2 linked regions of the Homo sapiens genome follow. The gene in region 1 interacts genetically with each later gene. Each region holds a gene or a part of one and is shown on either strand. Other genes may lie near its edges.

Region 1 (4,031 bases):
TCCTCAAGGAGCTCTGGCTCCTTTTATTGGAGAATGGTACTAGAAGCAAGATCAGAGCGCTAGGTGTATTCGTTGCTACAGAGTGTTGTGTCTAGGCCCACTCAGCTGACAAAGCAAAGAGATACAAGTATGTGTACGACCCTTTATCTACAAATCTCTGTACAGACCCATTATATACATTATGAATATATAATATAGATGTAGACCCCAAACATGAGTCCATAACGATGTCTCCAACTCTAACCCTGTACCACAAGGATCACTCTAGCCTCTTCCTGGCTGTAACCTCCACTCCAGCAGTGAAGATTTGATGGCCACCATCCACCATTTACATTTGTCTATTTCCAGTATACTCGTGTGGTGGTTTCATCACCCAGTTGTTTTTCATCTCTCTTGCTTCTGCCTGTTTCCCCCGGCACTGGATCCTTTCACTCTCCTCGTAGCCGGGGCATAGGCGTTTTGAACTAGAATATTCGTCCAGCGCTGGTTTGACACGGATCTTCCGCAAAGGAACATTTCTTTTGGCCTCCCCAGACCCCGTCATCTTCCCCATTCATTCTGGCGGAGTAAGGACTGAGAAACCGTGAACCCGAGGTTCAGCAGCCGAAAGTCCCCTGGGAGATGGGGATACACCGAGAGGAATCCCATTTTACAGGAGAGCTTTGTACCCTTAGGAGTACCGTGGCCTCCGGGACTGGAGCAGATAACCTGTTTTCGGGCCCTCTATGTTCACTCAACAACTATTAAGAAGCCCCCTCCCCGAGCCAGGGCCAGCGCTGAGCCCACTAGGGAGGCACCCGCCCCGGCCCGCGTCACCCCGCCTTGCGGGCTAGACGACGAAACGCCTCGGCGCTCAGGGGACCGCGCACCGGTGCAGGAGCCAGCGCCCCGGTTGGGGGCGCAATGCCGGGCCTGGGAAGGTCCGCCCCGGCTGGTCAGAGCTTTCCTGCGCCTTCCAAGGCTTGGAGCTGCCCCGGGGAAGCAGACCGAACCAAACCGAACGTTCCTGCAGCCTCCCCGCCAGCCCTGCGGGAGCCCATCCGCCCAACGCGGCCCCGCCCCTCCCCCAGGCTCCGCCCACCGCCGAGCCCAGGCTCGGCCCTTGACGAAGTTCGCCGGAAATTACCGAAGCCCCTCTTTTTTTTCCTTCCTCTCCGTTCCCTGTTCTCCCTTTTCCTTTCACCCGGGTTCCCTCGGCCGTGATTTCCCCCTCCCCCCTCCTTCCTTCCCCATTGAAATCAAGATGGAGGCTCGCGGCAGCCGCCGGCGCCCGTGATCCCGGAGGTCTCGCCGGCCACGGGCCCCCGCCCTCGCGACTGCGCGTCCGGGAGGCGCGTGCTGCTGCCCGCGCTCCGGCCGGCGCCCGGGAGGCCGTGGCTCCGCGCCTCCGCCCCTCGGCCAGCTCGCGGCTACCGGGCGGAGTCCTCGTCTATGTGGGCGCGCTCCTTGGGCCGAGCCGCCGCCGCCGCCCCCCGCCGCCCCGGGGCTCTGCGTCCGCGCGCCGGGCGCGGGCAGCTGGGTGCTCGGCGCCGCCAGGCCCGGCGCGGAGCGGGCGGCACGCGGCGCTAGGGGCGCGGGGCCCGAGGCGGGCGCGGCCGCGGGCGCCGCCGCAGCCATGAGCGGCAGCAGCGGCGGAGCCGCCGCCCCCGCCGCGTCCTCCGGCCCCGCCGCGGCGGCCAGCGCGGCTGGCTCGGGCTGCGGGGGCGGTGCCGGCGAGGGGGCAGAGGAGGCGGCCAAGGACCTGGCCGACATCGCGGCCTTCTTCCGATCCGGTGAGTGCAACTGCGGCCGGCCCGCCCAGCGGCGCTGCCCCAAGCGCTCGGCCGACCCGCCGCGGAGCTGCCGAGCTCCGGCCACCGCGCGCTGGTGCCCGCCCGTCCGTCCGTCGGGGCCCGCAGGCTCTCGCCTGGGACCACTGCTTCCATGCGCCGGGGCTGCCCGCCCCACATCCGCGTGTCCCGCTGCCCGCGCAGCCGGGCGCGCGGCAGCTTGGCCCGAATGCCACCACCTCGCCCTCCCTGCGCCCGCCCCTCGTTTTAGGGCAGAATCCCCCGGTCTGCCGCTCCCGGCAGCCGCGGCTTCGCGGGTTGGGGCGCCGGCTCTTTGTCTCTTTCGCTGGAGGACCGAGGAGGCGGCGGCGGAGATGGCGTGGGCGGAGGCTCTTACCCCGGAGGCCGAGCGGACTGAGCCGGGGCCGGTCCGGGACGGGAAATTGGTCTTTGATCTGTGCCTGTCTCTGGCTGATTTGTACCTGGACCCTCCTCGACCCCATTAGCAGCCGGGTTTCTTTGCTTGGCCCTCTAGCCTGTCATCTCCCCGGCCTTGGTCTACACTTCTGTGAAACGGGGCAGTCACGGCACTCACTGCCCAGGGAGTGGGGACGGTGGCCGAGCTGAAGCTCGGAGGACCGGGAGGCGCGGTGAGCCATTGTCTCCGGGGACGACCCGGGAGGGTCAGCTGGGAACGTGGCCCCGGGGGGGCGGCGCGGGGCTGGGGCTCGCGGGGCACTGTGTGGGTGGCGTGGAGGTGGAGGCGGTGCCAGGTGGCCCCGAGTCCACCCCGGCGCAGAGGGGGTGGCCGCGGGAGAGGCGCGGGTGGCGACCGGTCCGCGGGAGGGGCACCGGGTTTGCTGCGCAGGGGGCGTGACAGGGCGTCCCCGGTACCCCAGCGGCGGCGCCTCCTCCCGCTCCGGCCCAGATCCCGCGCGAGCCGGGCCCGCGTCCCCGCGTCCCGCGTCCCCGCGCCCAGTCCGGTCTGCTCGCGCGTCGGCTGAGCAGCAGCAGGAGGAGGAGGAGGCGGCGGCGGCGGCGGCGGCCTCGGGGCCGGCACCCAGAGCGCAGTCCTTAGCGGGCCGGGCACGGGGCAGGGAGGATGCAGACTCCGGGTTGGAGAGCGGAGGAGGGCGGGCCAGGTCCGGGCCTGGAGAGGCGGGCGGGGGTGCTGGTGGCGGCCTCGGGGAGGACGGCCGGGCTGGGGACACCGACAGGCCGGGGGAGCGGCCCTGCGCTGGGGGACGCGCGGGAGGTCGGCGGTTCACGCTTTTCCGTGGCCTCTTTGAAAATCACCTCCCCAGATTCGGTGAGATCAGTTCCCCAATCCGGGTCACGAGGAGCAATTGCAGCGGGAGGGCGATGGTGAGAGGCAGAAGTTAGCAGTGCTGGTAGATACCTGGTTTAGTACTGTCTTCTCTTGGTTGTCTTGATCTTTGCTAGGCGGGGTTATTTTTGATTCATTTTAGCAGATTGGTTGTGGCTGGGAGTGACACAGCCGACTGTCCAGTGTTAGCTTGGGGTTAATCTACTCCCCAGTGCTCACTCTCCTTGAGAAGTGCCTGCAGAAAGCAAAGGTTTAGGAAAACATGAGCTCCTTCTAAAGAAAGCTACCCCCCCCCACCTTTTTTTTTTTGGTGCGACTGGCCAGATAGAGCAGCCCCGTCTTACCTCTTAATAGCAGAACTGGGACGTATTCCCTTCATGCCCTGAAGCTAAGTCTAGCTTTCTCTCTACCTACCTGTCACAGAATAATAGATTCTGTGCAGAATTCAGCTCCTCTCTGTTAGAAAGGCTCTTCTGCGTTGGAGATGGATTTTTTGGTGTTTGTGAGACCAGGCTTTTTTACATCTCTATTATGCATAGTACAAAAATCACTTCTGCTGCTGCTAAGAGCCCTCCCTAAAAGACACCGAAGATTTGCTGCCTGTTGGCGTGGCTCTCTCCAGGAGTTGTCGTCTGCTCTTGGCTTTGCTTAGGCCTGTGCTGCCCCCGCCGCCAGGGCTCCTGTTCATGTTCCGTTTGGGTCAGAACCAGGTAATGTCTCACTGGCTTGTTCCTTTCTTCTGCCCTCCAAAATGACAAACTTAACTTTTTAGTTGTTTCACTTAGAATCAGGAGCCAGGGCAGAACTTAAGTAGGTATCAGATGCAGCATCCCATTCCAGCGATAGCCTGGAACGTCTTTTTAAAAGTGAAATCTCCTTTGGGCAGCTCTGAGTCCCTGACCTAGATCTTGGCTCTAGCATCTAGGCCAACGATG
Region 2 (4,189 bases), on another chromosome or scaffold:
GAAGCACAGGTCACCTGCCACCCGGGCTCATGAGGCCAGGTGGAGGGTCTGGCACTGCCCCAGGTTGCTGGGTGTTGTGGTCCTTGTCACCGGTGCGACCAGCTAAGGGGACATCAGCCCTCAGGTGCTCCCCATCGGCCACACACATCCCGCCCCAACACCAGCCTTCTGAGAGTCCTCACCACCCTTGAATAAAGGCCCCTTTCATGTTTCCCTCCCGTGTCCCTCTTCCACTCACTACCTCCAGAACGGCCTGTAAGCTGTTCCCTCAGCCTGGACTCTGGGCTCACAAGAAGTCAGACTGTAAGCTGTGGAGCCTCGTTTCCTGGGTTCAAATCCCCCCTGTGCCACTTTCTGGCTGTAGGGTCTTGGGCCAGTGACCTCCTTCACCTCTAGCCTCTGTTTCCTCATCTTTGAACTTGGGGTTAGCTTGGCACCTGCCCCACAAAGTGGCTGTCAGGACACTGGGGCGACGCAGGAAGGCCAGAGGTCAGCGTCTGGCTAGAGGTGGCCCTACGGTGTCACTGTCTCAGCCTGCCCCTCCCAGAAGCCTCCTCTGACCACCTGTTCTGTCTCACCTCCCCCATTTCCTATTGTGACTGCTGTAAACACCTGGCCAGATGTCTGCCTGCTCCACCACCCTGAATGCTTACTGACTGAATAAAACGCTGGGTGGTTTGAAGGGCTGGTCACATGGGCCACCAGGCCACCTCCCGAACGTCAGAGCCTCAGGTCCCCTCTCCTTCTTCTGGTGACCAGGCAGACGCAGAACCCAAGACATCACGGACAGCAAGGGATGTGCGCTGGCTGCTTTATTTAAGGGCTTGTGATTGACAGCTGTCCCCATCCCAGCCCTTGCTTCCTCTACAAAAGCAACTGAACATGAAACGGGCTTCCTGGTTACCATGGGGAGGGGGGCGGCTCCCTGTCAGGGCCCAGCCCAGGGACCTGGGGAACGGCGGCTTTGAATCCCCGGCCACGGGCACTAGAAGGTGGAGAAGGAGAGCGGGAAGTCCAGTTGAGATGGGCACGGTGCTGGTGAGGAGGCTGGAGAGGTCCTGTTCCAGCCTCTAGTGGGCTTCCCTTGTCCAGGATGTCAGGAAACAGTCCCCCAATTCCGCCGGGGGGAGCCAGAGCCCCAAGGCTGGGGGGCCAGGGGCTGCAGGGAACACAGCAAAGGCTTTCGGAGCCAAGTGAGATCAGTTCAGGCCCCTCAGGCCCAGGAACCCGACACCACCGCGTACCTGTGAGCACACACTCACGGCCACCCCAGTGACACGTGCAGCCACACACACCCACACTCACTCACACCCACACCCACACGCACACCCACTACACACACACACACACACACACACACACACACACACACACACACACACACGGCTGTGACAGCCCAGGACCCACACCCTGGACCCCTGGAATGTCTCTGGACCAGAACCGAACAGCTGGATCCACAGTACGCGGGGCTGCTCAGGGGGCGGGTCCTCTGTGTCGCTACTGATTGGCCGCCTCGCAGGCGTCTATCCAATCACTGTACACATCCACGGGTTCTGACAGATCTGGGCCACTTAGGTCAAGGGCGATCATTGGCATTGGAACCCTGCCCTGCATCTTCTCACCCCACAGAAATCACTAGGTGGCACCTGTTCCTCTGGACGGCTTTGGCCCTGCACCAGGGCACACAGTGGGCCAGATGAGCAGGGTCCGGACTCCAGCCCCCTCCCCACCCTCTGGAAAAAGCCCAGGTTTCCAAGGATACACGTTATGGGCGTCTGGAATTCCTCTAGGCACACGGTACAAGAGATGACTCCGGTGTTGCGGGCACGGTCCCTGAAACAGACCAAGAGAAGGGACTGGTGAGCAATGCGTCCTGGGCCTGTGGGTGATGACGCCTTCACCAAGGGAGGCAAGGGGCAGGATGGAGAACAGCGGGGAAGAGGCAGTGGGGAGGCTGGATCCCTTGCCCTGTTCCCCACTCACATTTTCACATCACAGGATTTCTCGTGGTTGCAGAAGGGGCAGGTGAACTGGGTCTCGAGGGTGCCTGTCATCTTCTTCTTGGGAGGCGGCTTTCGTTTTGACTTTCTGCGCCCCATGTCTGCAGGTGGATGAGCCTGTGGGGAGTGGCAGATGTCAGTGGTTTGAGGAAACCACGCAGCGCCCCAGCTCAATGCTCTAGAAAGCAGGCCGGAAAGAGGGTCTGGGACTTGCACCGTGGTCCCGGGGCCTCTGCCCTTGAGGGACGAGGCCCTCAGTCCTGATGCAGGAGGACAATTCCCTGTCCCACTCTGGATGGAAGGGGTGAGACGAGGCTCTAACCCCATCTCTCTCACTTACTGCGTGACCTGGGCAGGTTATTTAAGCTCTTTGTGCCACAGTTTCCTCGTCTATAAAACAGAGACAAGGCCAGGCATGGTGGCTCACACCTGTGATCCCAGCCAGCACTTTGGGAAGCTAAGGTGAGAGGATTACTTGATGCCAGGACCTGGATACCAGCCTGGGCAACATAGTGAGGCCTCATCTCTAAAAAAAAAAAATTAAAAATTAGCCAGGCATGGTGGTGCAGGCCTGTAGTCCCAGCTACTTGGGAGGCTGAGATGGGAGGATCGCTTGAGCCCAGGAGTTTCAGGTTTCAGTGATGATCCAGAGTTATGATCCAGGCACTGCACTCCAGCCTAGGCAACAGGATGAAACCCTGCATAAAAAAAAAAAAAGAAAAAAAAAAGGCCAGGTGTGGTGGCTCACACTTGTAATCCCAGGACTTTGGGAGGCTGAGGCGGGCGGATCACGAGGTCAGGAGTTCGAGACCAGCCTGACCAACACGGTGAAACCCCATCTCTACTAAAAATACAAAAATTAGCTGGCCATAGTGGCAGGCACCCGTAACCCCAGCTACTCAGGAGGCTGAGGCAGGAGACTCACCTGAACCCAAGAGGCGGAGACTGCAGTGAGCCGAGATCGCACCATTGCACTCCAGCCTGGGCAACAGAGCAAGACTCCGTCTCAAAAAAAAAAAAAAAAAAAAAGTCGAAATAAGGTTGCTATCTCAGAGGAGACTTGTGGGGCTGACACCAGGAATGGTAAGTTAAGTACTTAGCACAGAGCTGGCCCATCATCGCTGGCGCCAATACAAGGAAGCCACTGTTCCTGGGGAGGGTGGCACAAGAGACTCCAAGACAAGCCAGCTGTTCAGGGCCGGGTGGAGCCTAAGAGCCTAGGAACTGGTGATTTTATTCTGGCTGCTCCTCTTGGCAAAGGACATGTAAGTACCATCCAGGAGGAGTGACACTCAGGTTATCTGATGGCCTCGATCCAGATGACAGACTGCAGGGCAGAGAAGTGGGGACAGGCACTTCTGAGTAGAGGAACACTGTGTGAAGGCTCAGGGCAGCTGTCCGTCCCCTGGCAGGTGAGGGAGAGAGGAGGGACAGGTGGGAGGGTTCTGGGTGTTTGGATGGATCCTGGGAGCTACAAGGAGTGAAAGGACAAAGTCACCCTGTGCTTTTGAGGAACTGCGGTGTGAGCCATAATCTGGATGAAGACAAAGTCACAGCCAGGACAGGGCTGTTGGGGTAGAGATGGCAGAGGGTGAGAGAGACAGAGGAGACATGGCGGCAGAGTGAGTGAGTGTGACGAGAGAAGGAAAGTCCAGGATGACTCCCAAGGTTGTGGCGGGGACATAGTGGCTAGAGGGACAAGGTGGCATCATTCTCTGATGTCTAACACATAGGAAGGACAGGGTTTTGGAGAAAATGATGGGGTTGGGTGGCAGAGGGATATCTAGGAACAGATGTCCAGGAGGCAGGTGGGTGGGGAAACGGCAGCAGTTACCACTGAGCCCAACTCCCCTGCGAGGCACGGTGCTCAGGGCACTGTGTTTGCCATCCCTGAGCCTCCTATGGCGCCTCCTCCAACACACACACACACGACTGCTGGTTCTAGCATCGTTCCACTGTGACGGGGAGGTCAGCAGCCTGCCAGTGTCTTCCAGAATAAACAGTGGAGTTTCATTCATTATCTGCTGATCACTTCCTATGTAATACCCCCAACTCTTTCTTTTTTTTTTGAGATGGAGTCTTGCTCTGCCGCCCAGGCTGGAGTGCAGTGGCATGATCTCGACCCACTGCAACCTCCACCTCCCGGCTTCAAATGATTCTCCTGCCTCAGCCTCCCGAGTAGCTGGGAG

What was found.
Region 2: changes in TRIO (region 1) and ELOF1 together harm fitness more than expected from each alone (negative genetic interaction), as found in Homo sapiens cells (one large-scale study listed by BioGRID).

Annotation. Positions count from the first base shown.
Region 1 is NC_000005.10:14,142,111-14,146,141, forward strand, and holds the start of TRIO (triple functional domain protein), read left to right. Parts: upstream 1-1,231; 5' UTR 1,232-1,615; coding exon 1,616-1,772; exon of another isoform or gene 1,773-2,419; intron 2,420-2,695; exon of another isoform or gene 2,696-2,871; coding exon of another isoform or gene 2,872-2,911; intron 2,912-4,031. UniProt on the Homo sapiens protein: Guanine nucleotide exchange factor (GEF) for RHOA and RAC1 GTPases. Involved in coordinating actin remodeling, which is necessary for cell migration and growth. Plays a key role in the regulation of neurite outgrowth and lamellipodia formation.
Region 2 is NC_000019.10:11,552,249-11,556,437, forward strand, and holds the end of ELOF1 (transcription elongation factor 1 homolog), read right to left. Parts: intron 3,328-4,189; exon of another isoform or gene 3,097-3,327; intron 3,006-3,096; exon of another isoform or gene 2,926-3,005; intron 2,118-2,925; 5' UTR 2,100-2,117; coding exon 1,984-2,099; intron 1,834-1,983; coding exon 1,763-1,833; intron 1,563-1,762; coding exon 1,498-1,562; 3' UTR 798-1,497; downstream 1-797. UniProt on the Homo sapiens protein: Factor involved in transcription-coupled nucleotide excision repair (TC-NER), a mechanism that rapidly removes RNA polymerase II-blocking lesions from the transcribed strand of active genes.